Regions from separate parts of the Homo sapiens genome. Here region 2 is linked to region 1. The links come from fine-mapping of genetic effects on gene expression. A gene starts in region 1. The other region holds a variant in brackets. All regions are shown on one strand. Distances are from middle to middle. Region 1 holds the start of TNIP3 (TNFAIP3 interacting protein 3). Region 2 has its middle 56 kb from the start of TNIP3.

Region 1 (4,407 bases):
CTGGATCCTCTATAATAATTCAATAGTCTTATTACTATCTCATCTCAGAGTCATATAAGTAATACAATTTATTGGATGATGAGAGTAATTCCTACATCTGTAATCTGTTTCAGGCTTAATAGTTACTGTGGATCACTAAGTTGCTTAAAGCTATTTGTGAACCATTAAGAAATATTTTCAAAACATGTTGTTGGTCTTTGCCAGAAATGTGTACAGGAAATTGTTCTTTGCAATCATCATGGGATTTCAAGCACCTTTTTTCATCAGAAATTATTTATAAAACTGTATTTTCTATCTTTTCTCTGTTTGTTTATGTTTCAGCATTTTAGGGTTTGATGGTATTTTAAGTAAGCAGAGATGTTCTCGTTTCCTTAGCTTCTTCCTATTTAGACCTATGTTACAATTAAGACCACATTTAAAAAGAGACAGTCTTCTGTGGGTCAATAAATTCTGAATGATTATATTTGCTCTTGACCTCAAGAAGGTGTTCTGGCTGAGCACCAAGAGTGACACTGAAACCCAAGTGTCAAGTATGTTGGGGCCCGTAATTGGACCTTCTTCTTTTGGGGAAGACTTCCAAGAAACTGGACCCATTCTGGGTTAGAACAGACTAACTATTAAGCATCTTTGATCTGGAAAATGCTGTGAGCCAACCCTACTTAGTGTATCTTGAGGTCATCAGCAAAGTAGGGGCACAGTAAGACTGGATTTTAGAATGGTGGTTCCCACCACAAGAGCACATCAAAGTCACCGTTAAGCTTGCTAAACATAGAGCATCCTGAACAATGGATCAGAATTTCTAGAAGAGCAGCCAGGGCACCTCTATTTCTAATACATTTCCTAGGTAATTTTGATTCATACTAAAGTTCAATATATTCCCATTCTAGGGAATAAATTATGGGTCCTCAAAAATGTCTCCTCTCTGTTTGTGATGTAGACAAAAATCCGTGATTGGCAAACATTTGTATGTCCCTGCCTTTGGGAGCCCAGATGTGGAACAATGAGACAGTGTGCTTTTTGTTTGTTTCCCCATAAACAATTTTCTCTGGAAGAAAATTATAATACATTTCACCCTTGATTTTTCTTTAATAAATAAAAATTACTGAAAATCTAGATACCAAATCTGCAAGAGGCTCTATTTGTAACTGCACGAGTACTAGTTTTTGAAATTCATAAGTAATATTCAGTTATAGGTGGGGGAGGATAGGAGGGAGGAAAAATAGAAAACATAGTGACTAGGAATGGCATGTAAGTCACAAATGTATCACCAAAGCTTTCTCTGGAGATTAATCAACATTTTGTTATAGTTCATATGTCTCAGGTTTCTATAAAATAAAGCGAAATTAATCAAATACAAAGGTTTGGGGGACCTTTTCAATTTGTATTTACTTTGCTTTACAGTTGCTAATGAAGGCATCTGATTTGCAGTAACTACAAAGATTTTCAGTCATTGATTCTAGCAAGGGCTGCTTACGGAACAGTTATTCCCTATACATAATTTCCTATAATTATTCCCTATAAAGTAGAATTTCTGTTCAAAGCATCTGGGCACTTCTTTCTCTATGATAACATCCTTACCAATGTATATTCAAGGTCTGATGCTACTAAATTAAAAACTTAAATGAATAGAAGTTTCCATTTAGTTTCCCATTATACCTTGGTTATCTGTAAAAGAAAACTAGAAAATATTTGAATTCATTCATTCAATTAGCAGTAGTCTCTGTTGCTGAACAAAATCTATGGTACCAATTGTAAATATATAAAAATATTACTACAGATACTCTATTGTTACAATATGTTCTATTTCTACCTACACCAATATAGTATTCTTTTAAGATTTTTATAGAACAAAAATCAAGAACAAAATAAGGAACCCACAGAACTGGAAGGCTGAAAGGAATTTAAGCCCCGTGGGTTAAAAGCAATGTACTGGTTACTTAGATATTTTTTTCTATGTTACATAATTTTGGTTAAAAATATAGAGCAAATCTTAGCTAAAGAAAGCAAACTAGCCATTTCTGTTCTTATTAATAAGTGCACAATTAACCACTAGAAATGCCATCAATGCTAGATGTGATCAACTCATCTCCTAGAAATATGTTCTTACCTCTTTATGCTCCGTAGAACTTTCTGCGGCAATCATTCTAGATGTGCCCTGTACAAAATGTGCCATGGAAGCTGTTTTTCCTGGAGTCTTGGAAAGCAGAAAGAAAAACAGGGGAAAAGTCTCTTAAGGTATATTTTAGGGTGAGAGCAAGTATACAAAATTTAAAAAACACACATCACCGTTAACTCATAATAGAAAATAACAGCAATAGGTTTTCATTAAAAATGAACAGAAGTGACTGTGGATAGGAATTACACAGAATAAAGTTATAAGCACTGCAACTGGGATTTTAACTTTTCTTCTCTTCCAAATAGGGATTTCCCAGGATGTCTCAAATAGGCAGGCCGTGACTAAGACCTGGGGCAGATTAGCCTTGCTATAGTATGTAAATCGTCATTCTTCCTTTACTGGCAGTTTCTCCCACTGGAGGAGGAAGTTCTCCACCACAGAAAGCCTGGGCAATCCAAGTGTTTCCTCAGTAGCCTAACTGTTATAAATTCATTGTATTTCCCAGAGCAATTAGGTAACTGTTGACTTTTTGACAGCTCGGTTTCCCTAAAGGCGAGATTTTCTGGCAATACCTTCTAAATGTGAGTGTAGCTTGGTAGAACTTAATGAGTCATACATAATTCATAATACATAATAATATAAGTGCCACTAATTCTTATAGAAATAAAAGGGAAAATAATTCATTGTAAAGAAAATGGGCATTGTTTGCAAATCTAATCTTCTATATTGGCAGAAAGGTTAAACTTGTCTCAAGTTTAAGTCTGTCTTTTCTATAAATCAAGTCCAGATTGTCTCCATGACTCATTTGAAGTGAAATCTTCTCATGGAGAATCATTTTCACTTTAATTATTTGACTGTTATCATTTTAGGAGCCTTGAGGTAATGGAGCACTACTGGGTAGTACAGATAAAAGCGTGGAAATGGCAGATACTTGGAGCTGCATAAGTGAACTGCGATGGAACAGAAGACCTCATTTTGGACTTGGAACAAAAGGAAAGAGGCAAGGAATACAAAAAAGGAAAGAATGTGTAACTAAAAAGAGAAAAGAATTTATGGTCAATCATTTAACTTCATTAACCTGCCTACGAGATATTCACATATATATAGGATAAAGCCTAAAACTCCTAAAATTCAAAAGAGAGTGATTGAGTGTCCCACATTTGGCCCTCCCATTTCTCCTGAATATCTCCCCCTACTCTCCAACTCTCCCCTGTGCTCCAACCATCCTGACTGACCTCCCTTTCCTGAAATGAGTGAGATGGTTCTACGCCCCTGAGCTCTGTGCATGCTGTTCTTGCCACCTCAGATGTCTCCTCTCTGGGCCCTCCATCCAACCTTATGACGGGGAAAACCTAAGTCAATGCCTCTCTTTCCTTCTGATCTTCTCTTGACTTCCTCTAATCAGCTAAGGAGAGCACTTCATCATGCATTACGATTACATATTTCCATGTTCTTGTGTTAATCTCTGTGTCCACGCACCCAGGCACTGAGCTGTCTGGCACACAGCAGGCATTCAACACATTTTGCTACATGAATAAATGAATGAATATCTATATAATGATTTACAAAATCGATGAACTTTTTGCTAGTTTGTGTGTGTGTGTGTGTGTGTGTGTGTGTGTGTTTACTTTCTTCTGGTTTCTTGTTATGTTTGGGTCTACGCTTGAGTGAAAGGGAGTGACGCTGCTTTAAGGCAAAATCCAAAAATACAGGTAGGAATCAAATTGTTCATTCAGGGTTCTGAAAGTAAAAAGTTATAACTCACATAAGATCTGACTTTAGGGTACAGAAGCAGCGATTTCCTGAACTGACACTTTATCAACACTAAAATCTGCTCATCAGAAAAGAAAAAGAAAACTCTATTGTAAGAATATTTTTCTTCTGAAACATACCATGCACATACACACTCCATAGTTTTATATAGTGTAAGGTTCTCTTCAGCTTTAACTTTGTATTTGTATAGGGATGTGGTAACATTGACCTAGAAAAGTGGGTGGGAAGAACATTTTCTTGCCAGGAAATACCATCCTTGGCATTGTGCCTCTTGAGTCTCCCCTGTAAAATATCCTGATGCACATACATTGTTAGGTGTGATGGCTTCTATTAAATGGAAATTCTATACCTTTGCTTCTTTCTTTACAATTCCTTTGCCTCTTCTGTTATGCAGATAAACAACAAACAGATTTTCTATTAGCTCAAGAGAGCCATATGGTTATTTATGAATAAGTAATAACTCTTCTGAAGAGCCACAAGTTTGGTTTCAGAAAAATGAGACTTTCAATATGCCATCC
Region 2 (4,407 bases), 57 kb after region 1:
CCCTTCCTTCCTCCTTCTCCCCGTCCCTCTTCTTCTCCCTCTCCCTCTCTCTGTCTCTCTTTCTTTTGAGACGATGTCTCACTATATTACCCAAGCTAGAGTTCAGTGGCTGTTCACAGGCACCATTACAGTGCACTATAGTTCTGAACTCTTGGGCTCAAGCAATTCCCCTCCCTCAGGATCCTGAGTAGCTGGGACTCCTGGGCTCAAGCAATTCTCCTCCCTCAGCCTCTTGAGTAGCTGGGACTACAGGTGTGCACTACTTTCCCTAGCTATAGCCACATAAAATTTCTGAGAACCAAAAGATTTACAATTAAAAACCACAGAAGTGGCCAGCCATGGTGGCTCACGCCTGTAATCCTAGAACTTTGGGAGGCCGAGGCAGGTGGATCACCTGAGGTCAGGAGTTCGAGACCAGCCTGACCAAAATGGAGAAATGGTGTCTCTACTAAAAATACAAAAATTAGCTGGGTGTGGTGGTGTGCACCTGTAATCCCAGCTACTCAGGAGGCTGAGGCAGGAGAATCACTTGAACCAAGGAGGCGGAGGTTGCAGTGAGCCGAGATCACACCATTGCTCTCCAGCCTGGGCAACAAGAATGAAACTCCATTACAAACAAACAAACAAACAAACAAACAAAAAACCCATAGAAGTAAGAGTATCCAACTGGCTGAGCATCCTCTGAAGCTAAAAGCAAACACATGTCTTTGTTTCCATCTTTTGATTACTTCTCCTTTTTCCTCCCTCCTCCTCCTTTTCCTCTTTTTTAAGGAATTCCTATACTGCTAAAGAAGCAGCTGTTGCTTTCTGTTTCACTTAGCCGAAAGATGTCCTCTGTTCTTGGATGCATTTCAGCACATCAGTGAAGATCATAAGCTGTTTGATTGTTTAAGCAGAAGTTTACACAATCCATAGTTCCAAAATAACCCAACTTTGAAGGATAAACTTACTTTTGGAAGTTAACCAAGTTTTATGAGCTTTTGGACATTTCTGGTGACAGCTTTTAATATACTTGGATTTCTAAAGTCAGATTCAAGGGCAGGGTGTTCGTATTACCAGTCATACTCAAAGTTTACTCACATAGGTTTTACAGACCTTGAAAATGTTATATAAAAAATTACCAACGAATTCTTATACTATTGTTTACATTTATGTTGCTCAAGTCTATGTTATACATTGAGAGGTGTCCAAATGTAATTCACATACAATCAAATGCATGAAAACTTAAGGTAGAAAGGACTAGAAGCTGACAAGGCATATTTATTTAAATAAAATGTGTTTCTTTCTGGGTCATACAATTTACAACACATAATACCTTCCTGGAAACTGTTTCATTTCACTATCTTTACTAAATTAACATTAAATGTTAACCAGGTTCAATACATTTAGGATAAAATGTCCTCATCAGGTACTAAACCATCATGAAAATTACTATCCTTGTATCCATATATAATAAATAATAAAGATTCTATAAAGTAATAGGCTGAAAACCATACATATGTGTACATTCACATGCTTACAGATATAAAAGTACTTATATTAATTTTTTAGAAATGACATTATACCATTTAAGAATACATGAAAAGCTTTCTTATTGATCACATAAGAGACCTACAGGTAGGCAGTCAGTTAATCAAAATATTAGTTAAAGCTGGGACTCATGAAGAATAATACATTAATACCATATTAATTTAATGTCACTGAAAATACATAGGTGAACATCATTGCTAGGCTCTGTTTTCTAAGGAGAGATCTATTAGTGGTTGTCCACATGTGTCTTCTGGCCCACAATAAATCCTTGGTGAATTCTAGTTTTGGTTTCTTTACAAGGGAGCAAAAATTTTAAGACATAAAGCAATCTGAAAACAGAATGCTTTTAGGTTTTTATGATAATTAACTACTTTTTTTTTGTATTTGCCCTCACCATCATCCAATTCAAATTTGGTAACTTAACCTTTACTAGATGTTTCCAAGATGCTAAAACTAGCTTGTACTGAAACAATGTTTTTTTTTAACCTTTTGGTACTCATGTATCATCGGCTTATATACATTTTATTTAAATATATAATGGCAAAAAAGTAAAATTGTCATAAATAGCGTGGGGGAATAAACAAAGCTGATCCTGGGTAAACGTACCACTTAACTTTTAGAGTCAGAAATAAGTGAATGTCCTTAGCTGTGAGCATTCAGCGTGCCTTAAGTGCCAGTCTGTGTGTTTTACTGAGCGAATGGACAGCAGGATTCGTTCCTGCTGTGATTTGGCTGAGTAGGGG[A/T]TGAAAAAGAGCAATACGTTCAGTCAAGAGTGGGAAAATGCCTGCAGAGTCAGGAAGCTGACATAAATTGGTGACAAGTGGTGGTAGGGGCTGTGGTGAGTAAGTGAAGACATATCCTCCCCAAAGGTATTAAAATTCTGTTTAAAAAAATCAATGAGAACAAATAAAACATAATGCTCTTTAAAAATTTTTGGTTTACTGTTAGCAATTCTCATGGCCTTTTGCAGTTTCCAAAGCTTGAGATATTTGTTGCCAATATGTGGATGATAATGGACAACATTTTGAGATCCTTGCTATTATTGGTAAGAAAGAAATGTAAAGAACTATAACATTTTTAGTATAAAACCTTGGTTATGTTTTTCTAATAATATCTTTAATATTCAGTCTAAATCACTCTTAATATATAAAATAGCCAGTTTGTATGTTCAAGAAGTTTTATCCTTAAAGTTCCCTATCAGTCATTTTATCTCCATAAATATTAAAAAAGAAAAAGGAATTCACTTAGCCTAGAAACAGGAACAGTAAAGCAGATCACGTGACTATAAAACTAACCTAAATTTACAAGCACAAAGCTAAAACAGCAATAAAAGATTTCAGATAATTTCTATGCAAAATGAGGCAAATGCTCAATGTTGTTAAGAATATGATAATGATATTCAAAAAAAGGATATGTTACACATTTTAATTCATTTATTTCCTCTAGCAAATAAGATTCCTATACCCAACAGGTACTTAAGGACCTTTGATTACAGTGTGGAAGAAATTGGAGGAGAGGAAAATTACACACCACTCTCATTTACAGTAATGGCTCAAGGGAAATTGAGAACAAGAAAGAGATTTTTGGCTGCACATCGTTTGGCTAAACCAAAAGAAAGAACTACCCAACAGAGCTGTAACTATTTTTTTTTCCACTTCATATTTCTGAGAAAGGTGTCAAATCAGGGGACTTTCATCACCTATTTCCTTCTAAGAAGTCTTTTTGTTTTATAGCAGTAAAGTTTTTTGCCACCACAGGTTCTCTACAGCTCAATCACATCAGAACACCTGCATTTCTTCTTCATGCAAAACTGACATTTGAGGACTGAATCTAAAAAAGTTCCTGAACCAGGAGTCAGGAGACTAAGATTCTGTCTGTCACCAGGGCTATCACTACATTTGCTTGTCCCTGAATGTCGATCACCAGCTCTAAAATGAGAACAGATTGTACATTATAGTAGCTAAGAGTGCTCCTAATACTTAAGTGTTATGAAAACTGGTCATCCTAGGATTTTTGCAATGTTGCTATATTGCTCTTGATGCATCTTAGAGGCTTAGTGAAATATTAGTGAATTTCTTCCCCTGCGAAGAGGACCTAGTTTTCCATAGAATGTTCCTTCATTCTGCAGAAAAATGAGCATATCCTTGTTCTGAGTCTTTATTCAGCTCTATTTGGGAATATTCCTGTATTGTGGATTTCTACTGATAAATTTCATCAAAGCACCCCAAATTACAAATTCGCTTTTTCAAACGTGTATTGGAAGGATGATTGGGTTTAGAGTCAAAAGATGTGTATTCAAATCTGTCTCTCACGTTTAACAGACTATATGTCTTTGGGCATATTATTTAAATACTCTGAGCCCCACTGTCCTTACCTACAAAGTAAGGATAACACTTCCCTTCTTCAAGGAAAAGTCCATAATGATTAAACAAGACACTGCATTTACAAGCAACTTTCACCTCAATTGCACTATAAGGTGACTTTTCTAGTGTTGCATGGCAGATAGTAAGCTCCAAATAAATGTGAGAGAATTTAAATTTTGTTTAATCTTCAAAACTCACTGGAAAGCCTGTAGAGAAAGCGATTTTTATGGGACATAAATGTTATTATACATGTTATTAGTTATTAATTGTTGGTTGTTCTGCTGAAAATCATGAAAATGTGGAGCTGAGGGTGTTTTTTGTGCGTTTTTTTTTTTTTTTTTTTGAGACGGAGTCTCGCTCTGTCACCCAGGCTAGAGTGCAGTGGCGCGATCTTGGCTCACTGCAAGCTCCGCCTCCCAGGTTCACGCTATTCTCCTGCCTCAGCCTCCCGAGTAGCTGGGACTACAGGCGCCCACCACCACGCCCGCCTAATTTTTAGTATTTTTAGTAGAGA

What was found.
Region 2: its variant is fine-mapped to the expression of TNIP3 in whole blood (INTERVAL, PIP above 0.99).

What each region holds. Positions count from the first base shown.
Region 1 is chr4:121,161,953-121,166,359 of GRCh38, forward strand. TNIP3 (TNFAIP3 interacting protein 3) reads right to left here and starts at 2,369. Exons shown (of 11, transcript NM_024873.6): 1 at 2,108-2,369. The coding sequence starts at 2,173.
Region 2 is chr4:121,218,588-121,222,994 of GRCh38, forward strand. It overlaps a transcript of TNIP3 not described here. Among named protein-coding and RNA genes, the nearest start is that of TNIP3, 56 kb to the left of the region's middle. The variant A/T (reference allele first, on the strand shown) is at 2,274.